3 linked regions of the Homo sapiens genome follow. The protein of the gene in region 1 interacts with the protein of each later gene in a pairwise test. Each region holds a gene or a part of one and is shown in the gene's direction. Other genes may lie near its edges. The genes, in order: MVD, GNB5 and EIF4EBP1.

Region 1 (3,647 bases):
CAGGCCCTCAGGAATTCCTGAGTGTCTGCTTGGCCTCTGACAAGAGCCGGCAGGTCAGGGGAGTCCAGTCTCCCGTGTGCTCTCCAATGACTCCTGGGGAGGTGAAAGTCCCCACTCCTTCAGGGAGGGAAAGGGGGCGGGGCACTGTTCCAGCCTGGAGTGTGGGAGGGATCTGTTTCTTTTTTTCTTTTCTTTTTTTTTTTTTTTGAGAAAGGGTCTCCCTCTGTTGCCAGGCTGGAGTAAGGCTGGAGTGCAGTGGTGCCATCTCGGCTCAGTGCAACCTCCGCCTCCCAGGTTCAAGCGATTTTCCCGCCTCAGCCTCCTGAGTAGCTGGGATAACAGGCGTGCGTCACTACAGCCTGGCTAATTTTTGTATTTTTAGTAGAGATGGGGTTTCACCATATTGGTCAGGTTGGTCTCAAACTCCCGACCTCAGGTGATCTGCCCACCTCGACCTCCCAAAGTGCTGGGATTACAGGCGTGAGCCACCGCGCCCGGCCAGGAGTCTGTTTCTGTGTTGCTAGGCTGCCCTTCCTGGTCCTGCTAGGGAGGGCTGGCTTTGGTTGGCAGTTCCAGCTTCTGCAGGGCTAGGTCTAGGGCAAGCAGAAAAGAAAGCCCCGGGCTCCCCCTGCACTGTCCCACAGCCGCCCTCTGTCACCCGTGAGAGTCTCACCTGTGATGTCCAGGGTCTCAGTTGTCCCCAGTGGGAGGAAGCGGGAGAAGTCCCCTGGCCCACCTTCCTGAAAGCAGAGGTTCGCCCGGCCTGTCAGGGCAGCGGCGTCCGCCTGCAAGGGGGGCCGCTCAGTGCTGTGCGTGAAAGAGCCTCGCGAGCTGCAGGGCGTGGTTCTCTGCCAGGTGTCCGCGTTTATCACCCCTGGAACTGTCCGCCATCCTCAGAGACCTCCCCTCGCACAAAACCGAGCAGATGGTGTGCTTAGCGAAGCCGCCGTGGAATAAGACTTCAGCTGAAGCACCACGCAGCGCTCCCAGGGCAAACGTTTCCTTTCGGGCTTTCTGGAAGTTTGATTTCACGTGCTGTCCCATGGCCGTGCTGGGCAGAAAGGGGTTTATCCTGGATGTTCCTGGGGCATATGAGCAGTGAGATGTGAGGAGTTCTCAGAGCTGGGCTCCTTTTGTTTGGGAAGGTGGAGGGGAGGCAGGCCGCGGTGGGAGCGATCCGCACCTGGGCACTCACGGATGCTGGAGTAGAAGCGATGAAGGAATGGGGAGCGGGGACGGAGGTTGGCTGGCCTCCAGCTCTGCTCTGGGAGCCTGAGCTCAGTGGGGTGGGAGCAGTTCTTGCAGGCCGGGGTCTGGCAGGAGGAGGGGCACACAGGTTGTGCGGTGAGAGACGGGACTGAGGCGGATGGGGGCCGTGGGTGGGGGGTGGGGGCACCTGTGGGGAACACTGGGGGAGGGTGGGCCGGGAAGCCCACCGGCCTGGCCCTGGCTGTTCATTACAGGGGGCAAGCGCGATGAAGAGCTGGTTCTGCCCATCAACTCCTCCCTGAGCGTCACTCTGCACCAGGACCAGGTATGTGTGGACTGACGACTAAACACCACAGTGCCATTTCCAGAACATTTGTAGAACAGTTGGTACCCGTTGGGTATGGTGGCTCACATCTGCAATCCCAGCACTTGGGGAGAGTCTCTTGAGCCCAGGCATTGGAGACCACAGTGAACCATGATCGCACCACTGCACTCCAGCCTGGGTGACAGAGTGAGACCCTGTCTCTGAAACAAAAAAAAAATTGGTACTTTTTTACCTAAAGGCTAGGATGAGATGGCCTAGCGACGACTCCCAGCCAGCACGCAGTGTCTGTTCCATCTCCCAGTATTAGGAGAGCTGAGCACAGCACACATGTGCCCCCAGGTCTCGTCACACATGCGCACACCGTGCCCCAGGGGCTCCCCTGGGAGTCCCCGTCTCTTTATTCAGGATAAGGCCTGGTTGCTCCACAAGGTGTGGCCCACGCTTTCATCCCCCACGGGCTTCCCCACTGCCCAGCTGAGACTGGCCTTTCCCCCCCTGCCCTCAGCAGGGCTGACCTTGCTCGAGTGGGCAGCCATGAGGCTCTCTCAGTAGAAAGGGGTACCTGGCTGGCATCGGTCCTCAATGCTGGCCTCTGAGGTGGCCCTGGGTTTCCTTTTCAGTTAAAAACCACCACAACAGCCGTCATCAGCAAGGACTTCACCGAGGACCGGATTTGGCTGAATGGCCGGGAGGAGGATGTGGGGCAGCCGCGGCTGCAGGCCTGCCTGCGGGAGAGTGAGCTGGGGTCCCCATAAGCCCATCCCTCCCTGTTGTCAGCAGGGTCCGAGCATCCAGAAAGTGCTTCTGCCTCTGTGCCCCTCCTGAGGCAGCAGGCGGGGTGGCTGGGAACCAGACATGCCCGCTGGGCCGCCAGCTCCAGGGCAGTGGCCCACCTCAATGACCAGCTGGGCTTGGGTCAGTCTGGGGTTTTCCCGGGTAAGAAACTCTCCACGAGGAGTCTGGCAGGCAGAGGCCTGGTGTTCAGCTGTGACCCCGGGCAGGTGGGCAGGAGCAGGGCGGGCAGGGTGCTGACGGCTGGGCCACACGCTGTCTCATTGTCTCTGCAGTCCGCTGCCTGGCCCGGAAGCGGAGGAACTCACGGGATGGGGACCCGCTGCCCTCCAGCCTCAGCTGCAAGGTGCACGTGGCATCGGTGAACAACTTCCCCACGGCTGCGGGCCTGGCCTCCTCAGCGGCGGGCTATGCCTGCCTAGGTGGGTGCCCACAGAGACCCGCAGGGGTTCTGGGCTGTGGGCGCAGGAGCCACTTCATGCTCTTCCCGGGTCAGGGAGCCCACTGCTGGGCGTGGCTAAAAGAGCATCCCCTCACCCCAGGCCTCCCTGGCCTCTCTGGAGTTGTTCAGTCTCTTCCCAGAGCACATCTGAACATTTTCATCTTCCAGTTGCAGCTGGCGTGGGGCTCTCGCCTGTAATCCCAGTACTTAAGAGGCTGATGGGGGAGAAGCACTGTAGGCCAGGAGTTCAAGACCAGCCTGGGCAACATAGTGAGACCCCCCCCCATCTCTACAAAAAATAAAAAAATCTTCCCGTTGCTGTATGTGGAGCCCCTCTAGATTGTCAGTGATAGAAACCACTTCAAACTGGCTCAGCCCTAAAATAGCGATGATTTTGTGGCTCACGTAACTGAGGATTCCAATGGGCACAGCTGGTTGCAGGCCCCGCTGGACCCAGCTCTCTGCTGGCCCCAGGCCACTTGCTGGCAGCTTCCCACCCACTGTCAGAGCCTGTCCCCCCGGTGGTGGTCTCACACCATCTTCACCCCTCAACTCCAGGGGTGACGCTTCCTGGCCCACCTGGGCTCCTGCGCCTTCCCTGAACCACCCTCGGTGACCAGGGTGGGTGACCAGACCTGGAGGTGGGGTTGCCCTGCTGGAGCCCTGTGGGAGGAGGGGAGAAGGTGGCTCCCGTGCTGGGTGGGCAGGGGGCGCGTCTTGTGGAGTCCAGCTCTGTCCTGGCATCGGTCCCTGCCCCACACAGCCTTAAAATTCCTTCCCACCCTCAAAGCCCAGCTTGGGTGTCCTCGGGGGCCTTTCTCCCGCCTTCCATGGGGCTTCCTGCTCTGCCGCAGGTACCTTTTGTTGCCCTTGTCGCGG
Region 2 (3,940 bases), on another chromosome or scaffold:
AAACACAAGAATACAGATGCACACGTTCCATTAGCCATCAAGGTGATCTTTCTCCCATGCCAGTAGTCTCTGGAAAATTCCTGAGAGGATGAAAATAAAAAAATCACCCATACAAAAAAAAAAAGTGTCAATATTATTATGAAAATAGTTTTGACCGTGAGGACCCCCTGAAAGGGTCTCAGGGACCCTCGGGGGCCCTGGATCTTGCTTTGAGAACAGCTGATCTGGGCTAATGAGCCCTTTTCCAGCCCCTCTGTGTGAGACCTCCCAGAAACCACTAAGGGCCTTGGAAGAGCTTGGCAAAGAAAGAGGTGACAGGATGATTGAGGAGAGCCACCCTAGGGAAAGCCTTCAGAGGAGGCTTTGGGACAGCCCCGGTCGGTGGAGGAAGTCCCAGAGAGGCAGTCGGAAGGGCTAGGGACCAGCTGAGGCCTGTGACCTGAAAATCCTTTCAAAAGAGGACGCCTGGAAGCCTGGGGAAGGCACAGTGGGTGGGGTAGAAGACTGGGGCTGAGGCCCAGGCCATTCCCAAGCCTGGAAGAGCTGATTGAGTGGGGATTTGTAGATCTTCATTTCCCAAACTTGCCTGCTGAGAAGAATCGTCCCACCCATGGCAGGTTCCTGCACTGCGCCTTCAGGGCCCTGCCCTGAGATCTGGACTGGGCGGGCCTGAGGTGGGCCAGGAAATCTGAGCCGGAGGCCCACTGGGGAGGCCGCGAGTGAATCTTGTCTCTGTGGATCCTTTGTAAGGATTGCCATGCTAAACCACTTGCCCTCTCATCCGTGACCGGAGAGAATTGGGTCACTCTTCCAGACATACCACAGACTCCTGCTTCTAGACAGCACTTGGCTGGAGCCAGGCTGGCCTTCAGGGTTGGTCAGTCTCCACAGGGGACTCTGGCCTCCCGTGGGCTGCCACAGGGCCAACCCCAGTGAAAGAAATGAAATGACTGAATATGTTCATGTCATTAGAAAAAGGATGCAGCAGGGGGTGGGGAGGAGTTGGTTAATGGAATCAAATTTGCAGCAAGATAGGAGTCTAGTGTTTGGCGGCACTGTAGGGTGACTATCGCTAACAATAATTTACTGTGTATTTTCAAGTAGCTAGAAGAGAGAATTTTGAATGTTCCTGTCAACCTAAATAACAAAGACAGGCTCGCTAAAGATATTTAATCAAAAGTAGGGCATTGCAACAGGAATATGTGTGCTGTAGTAAACTGTGTGCATATTCCAGGAGGTAAAGAAAAACAAAGGTGACTGGGCGCGGTGGCTCACGCCTGTAATCCCAGCACTTTGGGAGGCCGAGGCGGGTGGATCACGAGGTCAGGAGATCGAGACCATCCTGGCTAACACGGTGAAACCCTGTCTGTACTAAAAAAAAATATATATATATATTAGCTGGGCGTGGTGGCAGGTGCCTGTAGTCCCAGCTGCTCGGGAGGCTGGGGCAGGAGAATGGCATGAACCCAGGAGGTAGAGCTTGCAGTGAGCCGAGATGGCACCACTGCACTCCAGCCTGGGCGACAGAGCGAGACTCTGACTCAAAAAAACAAAGAAAAAAAAAAAGAAAAACAAAGGTTTTTAAAGGAAAAAATGAGGAGGATTACATAATGGTTTTGAAATAATTATCCTTGGCTACAAATATCAATAACAAAGGTCACACCAGTCCGAGGTTGGACAGGCAGTTGCTAGGCAGATGTCTTTGCAGAAGTAATTTTTGTGTGAGGTTGCAGCAGCCTATGTGCAAGGTTGTAATTTTTGCAGAATCTTTTGTGATCATTTTTGGTATTAGGCATACAAGCATGAGAATCCCCTCTTCATGGCCTCCCCAGCTCTATTTGTCATGGTTTGTTTTTTTAAAACACTAGTGACTCTATTTGAATTCTAACAACTTTCACATTCCCAACACAAATGATAGACATTTAAGGGATTAATATGCTAATTACCCTGATCATTACACATTGTATACATGTATCAAAATAACACACTGTACCCCATAAATACATACAATTATGTGTCAATTAAAGATCATTATTTTTAAAAATAGGACCAGAAAAAAAGATGCAGACCCTCTAGTAAGGAGATGGGATCAGGAGTGATTCCATGGTTAATTTAACCCACATAAACAACTAATCGTAAGTATGGTATGAGCGTTTATGTAAAGACTGTGACAACAGGAAATGTCTGTCTTTGAACCCAAGGTTATCTAACCAGCACACCAATGGTGAAAGATTAACTTTGTCAGAAACCAGGAACCATGAAGCAGAGGTCACTGTTTCCAACCTGTGTGTTTTCCACGGTAATTGGCAGCCTCCCCAAGGGAAATTAAAACATATGTCCACACAGAAATTTGAATGCAAATGTTCATAGCAGCATTACTCATAATAGCCCAAAGCTGAAACAGCCCCAATGTTCCACAGTGGATGAATCGATGAACAAAATATGGCGCATCCACAGAATGGAATACAAAGAAAGAAAGCGTGGACACATGCTGCAACATGGATGAACCTTGAAAATATTGTGCCAGGGGAAAGAAACCAGAGACAAAGAGCCACATGTTGTAGGATTCCATGTATATGAAAGGTCCTAATAAGCAAACTCATAAAGACAAAAAGCAGATTGGTGGTCACTTAGGGCTAGGGTGAGGAGTGACGGTTAGTGGGCACTGAGTTTCTCCGGGGGGAACTGAATTAGATGGTGGTGATTGCACAATTCTGTGAATAGACTAAAAACCACTGGACTGTAAGAGGGTGAATTTTTTGGTATATGAATTACATCTCAATAAAGCTGTTACTTAAAACGTGGAAAAAATAATAAGCAGTCACTAGCTATTCTCAATAAAACAGAAACCACATAGGTAAGACCAATATTGTCACATTTTGGTTTTGGCTGATAATGGGGCAAGTGAGCATAGTCACCGTTGCCAGAGGATTTACCATTTACAAATAAAAGTTTCTGTGGAGTGACAACCTTTTACTGTGTGCCAGGTACTGTGCTAAGCACTTTGTATATACCGATTCATGTAATCCTTGTGACAGCCCCGTGATGCCCCATTTTTAGATGGGGAGATTGAGGTTAGGAGAGTTGAATAACTTGCCCATAGCTGCACAGCTTCCAAGTTGCAGAGACAGGATTTTCACCGAGTCTTATTACAAACTGCCTCATATTGTGTGGACTGGAAATTCTATGTTGAGGTTAATTTATTCATTTGTTGTTTAGTTCTTTTCATCATTGTTGAGTTACCAATGGCAGTTCCAGAGGATTTATCATTTACCCCAAAGCTACTGCAAATCTAAGAGAAAACAATGTTCTTGCTGCTAAAGTTTAATGTACAAAAAGGTAAAATCATGACTGTCTTGCAAATAAAACATGAACATGTATCCAAGCTTTTAACTCACTGATTAATAAGGAAACCAGTAAGACGTCAAAACCAGTTCAAATGGGAATTTGATGTACAGAAATTTATATTCTAACAACACTTATTTAGTTCACTGTAAGAAATCATTTGCTTTGGCAGATTAGGCACTCAGCAGAAGCACCAGCCAGCTCAGCCTTTGGAGGGAGAATTCCATGTTGTTGGACCCATACATATCCTCTGTCCCTGCTGCCAAGAGCTCTTTGTTCATCGGCCCGTTGAGCAGACACCACAGCAGCTGCATAGAGAGGCTGGCTGACAGCCACAGAGCATGTAATTCTGTCCATCTGATTCAGGGTCTTCTCTGCAGTGGATGCCCTTTGGTGGGCATTCAGGTGAGATGCAGATATCTTCAGTCTGCCCATTCGGAGGGATTCAGCCACATATCTCTTTCCAAGATTTTCTTGTCACCAATCTTCCAGTCCTGTTCTTTTTAAGGCCCTGACCATCCAGCTAAACCATCAGCGACTGTCCATGAATCAATTTAGGTCTGTATTCTGGCCATCTCTCACTCCAGACATAGTG
Region 3 (3,647 bases), on another chromosome or scaffold:
CTAAATCGTGGTGTGGAGAGCCAGGCTTTTGATAGAGTGTCTGCATGGCTGTCTGCACCTGCTTACTTATAGGGACTGTCAGCTTCTCAGGAAAAACCATTGGAGTAAGTACCCCCCAGTCACTCCTGCTGGGAATGGCCCTCAAGTGATTGTCCCTGGAGGGAAAGAAGCAGCAGTTGGGTTGCACTATCTCCATTCCTATGACTCCAGTTTGCTTTCCTTTTTTTTTTTTTTTTTTTTTGAGATGGAGTTTCGCTTTGTCGCCCAAGCTGGAGTGCAATGGTGAGATCTTGGCTCACTGCAAGCTCCGCCTCCCGGGTTCACGCCATTCTCTTGCCTCAGCCTCCCAAGTAGCTGGGACTACAGGCGCCCGCGATCAAGCCCGGCTGATTTTTTGTGTTTTTAGTAGAGACAGGGTTTCACCGTGTTAGCCAGGATGGTCTCGATCTCCTGACCTCGTGATCCGCCTGCATTGGCCTCCCAAAGTACTGGGATTACAGGCGTGAGCCACTGCACCCGGCCCTTTTTTTGTTTTTTTCCTGAGACAGGGTCTCATGGTGTCACCCAGGCTGGAGTACAGTGGCACAAACATAGCTCACTGCAGTCTCAAACTCCTGGGCTCAAGTGATCCTCCTGCCTCAGCCTTGCAAGTAGCTGGGACTATAGGCACGTGCCACCATGCCCTGCTAATTTTTTTATTTTTTTGTAGAGGCAGGGTCTCTATGTATTACCCAGGCTGGCCTCAAACTCCTGGGCTCAAGCAGTCCTCCCACCTCAGCCTCCCAAACTGCTGGGATTGTAGGCATGAGTCACCTCACCTGGCCTCCAGTTTGCTTTCCATGGTCATTAACCATTTGCACACTGAGGCTCTGCTCTGAGGTTAGCTGTCCAGAGTACTTAAGATAATTTAATTGCCGAAGGGAGTGTCATGTATGAATATTTGAGTCTGTGGAGTCTTAAAAATATCCAGCGACACCATAAACAGCTCATTAGCCAGCAGAACCTTTGAGTGGGTCAGAAAGAAACTTTCCCTCATCAATCTCCACATTCCCAGCTCCGTGTTGCATGTTTGACTCTGAAGCCTATATACAGGCTTGGATGGCAGTTGTGCCAAAGACCCGTACCTGGATAAGGTGAATCCGAGGTGAGCAGGTAGGGCTGCAGGTGTTAATGGCACCCTGTTTGGTTAAGCAAACAAGGTCTGTGCCCAGGAAGCTTACCTTGGAGCAGCTCCCAAGTCTTTGGACATGAAACAGGCAGTGCTGGGAAGAAGGGGATGTAGGCTGGGCACCAAAGCCAGAGCACAGCCCATGTCCTGAGGCCTTAGTCACATGGAGGGAAGAAATTATTAAGGATGGGTTAAAAGAGCTTGGACATTAATGCAGTGAGGGAGAAACGATGGACCCTCTTCTCACATTTACCTGAGCTTCCTTTTAAAGTGTTTGAAGGAGCTGGGTGCGGTGGCTCACTCCTGTAATCCCAGCTATTAGGAAGGCTGAGACAGGAAAATTACTTGAGGCCAGGAGTTCAAGACCAGCCTGAGCAACATAGTGAGACTCTGTCGGTATAAATTAAATAAATAAAATTTTTTAAAGTGTTGGAAGCATTCCACACTGTGTCCCTTATTAAAGATTTGGTGGGGGGTTCCTGGTGTAGAGCACTCCAAAATCCCTCCAATCCCCAGACTCCTTTTTATTATTATTATTATTTTGAGACAGAGTTTCGCTCTTGTTGCCCAGGCTGGAGTGCAGTGGTGCAATCTTGGCACACTGCAACCTACGCCTCCTGGGTTCAAGTGATTCTCCTGCCTCAGCCTCCCAAGTAGCTGGGATTACAGGCATGTGCCACCACACCCGGCTAATTTTTGTATTTTTATTAGAGACAGGGTTTCACCATGTTAGTCAGGCTGGTCTCAAACTCCTGACCTCAGGTGATCCACCCGCCTCAGCTTCCCAAAGTGCTGGGATTACAGGCATGAGCCACCACACCCGGCCTTATTATTTTATTTTATTTTATTTTATTTTTGAGGCAGTCTAACTCTGTCGCCCAGGCTAGAGTGCAGTGGCATGATTTCAGCTCACTGCAGCCTCCACCTGCCAGGTTCAGGCTGAGACAGGAGAATCCCGGGTAGCTGGGATGACAGGCACGCACCACCATGCCCAGCTAATTATTTATTTATTTATTTATTTATTATTATTTTCCTCAAGATGGAGCCTTGCTCTGTCGCCCAGGCTGGAGTGCAATGGTGCGATCTCGGCTCACTGCAACCTCCACCTCCTGGGTTCAAGCAATTCTCCTGCCTCAGCCTCCCGAATAGCTGGGTTTACAGGCGCGCTACCACGCCTGGCTAATTTTTTGTATTTTTAGTAGAGATGGGGTTTCACCACGTTGGCCAGGCTGGTCTCGAACTCCTGACCTCGTGATCCGCCCGCCTCAGCCTCCCAAAGTGCTGACATTACAGCCATGAGTCACCGCGCCCGGCCTATTTTATTTTATTTTTGAGGCAGAGTCTCATTCTGTCACCCAGGCTGGAGTGCAGTGGCACCGTCTCAGCTCACTGCAGCATCCGCCTCCTGAGTTCAAGCAATTCTCCTGCCTCGGCCTCCCGAGTAGCTGGGACCACAAACCCGGCTATTTATTTTTGTAGAGACAGGGTCATGCTTTGCTTCTGAGTCTGACCCTCTAGTTTTTTATTATTTGAAAGGAGAGGCCAGGTGCGATGGCTCACACCTGTAATCCCAGCACTTTGGGAGGCTAAGCAGATCACCTGAGGTCAGGAGTTCAAGACCAGCTTGGCCAACATGGTGAAACCCCATCTCTAATAAAAATACAAAAAAAAATTAGCCGGGCCTGGTGGCAGGCGCCTGTAATCCCAGCTACACAGGAGGCTGAGGCACGAGACTCACTCGAACGATTCTGGGTGACAAGAGTGAAACTCCGTCTCAAAGAAAAAAGAGAGAGAGTTTGATTTTTTTGCTTCCTAAAAGACCAAAAAAGTCCTTCATTGCCAAATCTGAGGAAAAAGGGTCAGCAGAGCAATACCATATTTATCCATTGACATAAAGTAGCGAGGCATTTTCTCATATAGACCTTTATTTTCATGTTCTGGAAGATGAGTTAGGAAGGCACAGCAATATTGTTTCTTCTTTTTTTTTTAATTTGAAACAGGGTCTCACTTTGTCACCCAGGCTGGAGTGCAGTTGCAGCCTCAACCTCCTGGGCTCAAGCAATCCTCCCATCTCAGCCTCCCAAGTAGCTGGGACTACAGGCATGCACCACCACAACCGGCTAATTTTTGTATTTTTTGGTAGAGATGAGGTTTCGCCATGTTGCCCAGGCTGGCCTCAAACTCCTGAGCTCAAGTAATCCACCCGCCTTGACCTCCCAAAGTTCTGGGATTAGAGGCATGCTCCACTGTGCTTGGCCTGGGAAGGCACAGCAATATTGAAAAAAAGGAACATTGCTTTCTAAGGTGAGTTTTAAAAAAAAAAAATGTTCAGTTGTGCACATAGATTCTTGCCTGTGCCAACAAACCCATGAAAAACCTGTTTCTTTCTGGTCTGACTTAGACCCATGCCTGGGGTCTCTCTCCATTATGATTCATAGCGAATGAATCACACGTTTTTGTTTACGTGTTTGTTCCCTAG

The links.
Region 2: the proteins of MVD (region 1) and GNB5 interact in a two-hybrid assay, tested with the Homo sapiens proteins (one large-scale study listed by BioGRID and IntAct).
Region 3: the proteins of MVD (region 1) and EIF4EBP1 interact in a two-hybrid assay, tested with the Homo sapiens proteins (one large-scale study listed by IntAct).

What each region holds. Positions count from the first base shown.
Region 1 is NC_000016.10:88,656,537-88,660,183, reverse strand, and holds part of MVD (diphosphomevalonate decarboxylase), read left to right. Parts: intron 1-1,463; coding exon 1,464-1,534; intron 1,535-2,154; coding exon 2,155-2,269; intron 2,270-2,601; coding exon 2,602-2,748; intron 2,749-2,936; coding exon of another isoform or gene 2,937-3,038; intron 3,039-3,647. UniProt on the Homo sapiens protein: Catalyzes the ATP dependent decarboxylation of (R)-5-diphosphomevalonate to form isopentenyl diphosphate (IPP).
Region 2 is NC_000015.10:52,114,545-52,118,484, reverse strand, and holds the end of GNB5 (guanine nucleotide-binding protein subunit beta-5), read left to right. Parts: 3' UTR 1-3,385; downstream 3,386-3,940. UniProt on the Homo sapiens protein: Enhances GTPase-activating protein (GAP) activity of regulator of G protein signaling (RGS) proteins, such as RGS7 and RGS9, hence involved in the termination of the signaling initiated by the G protein coupled receptors (GPCRs) by accelerating the GTP hydrolysis on the G-alpha subunits, thereby promoting their inactivation.
Region 3 is NC_000008.11:38,033,524-38,037,170, forward strand, and holds part of EIF4EBP1 (eukaryotic translation initiation factor 4E-binding protein 1), read left to right. Parts: intron 1-3,647. UniProt on the Homo sapiens protein: Repressor of translation initiation that regulates EIF4E activity by preventing its assembly into the eIF4F complex: hypophosphorylated form competes with EIF4G1/EIF4G3 and strongly binds to EIF4E, leading to repress translation.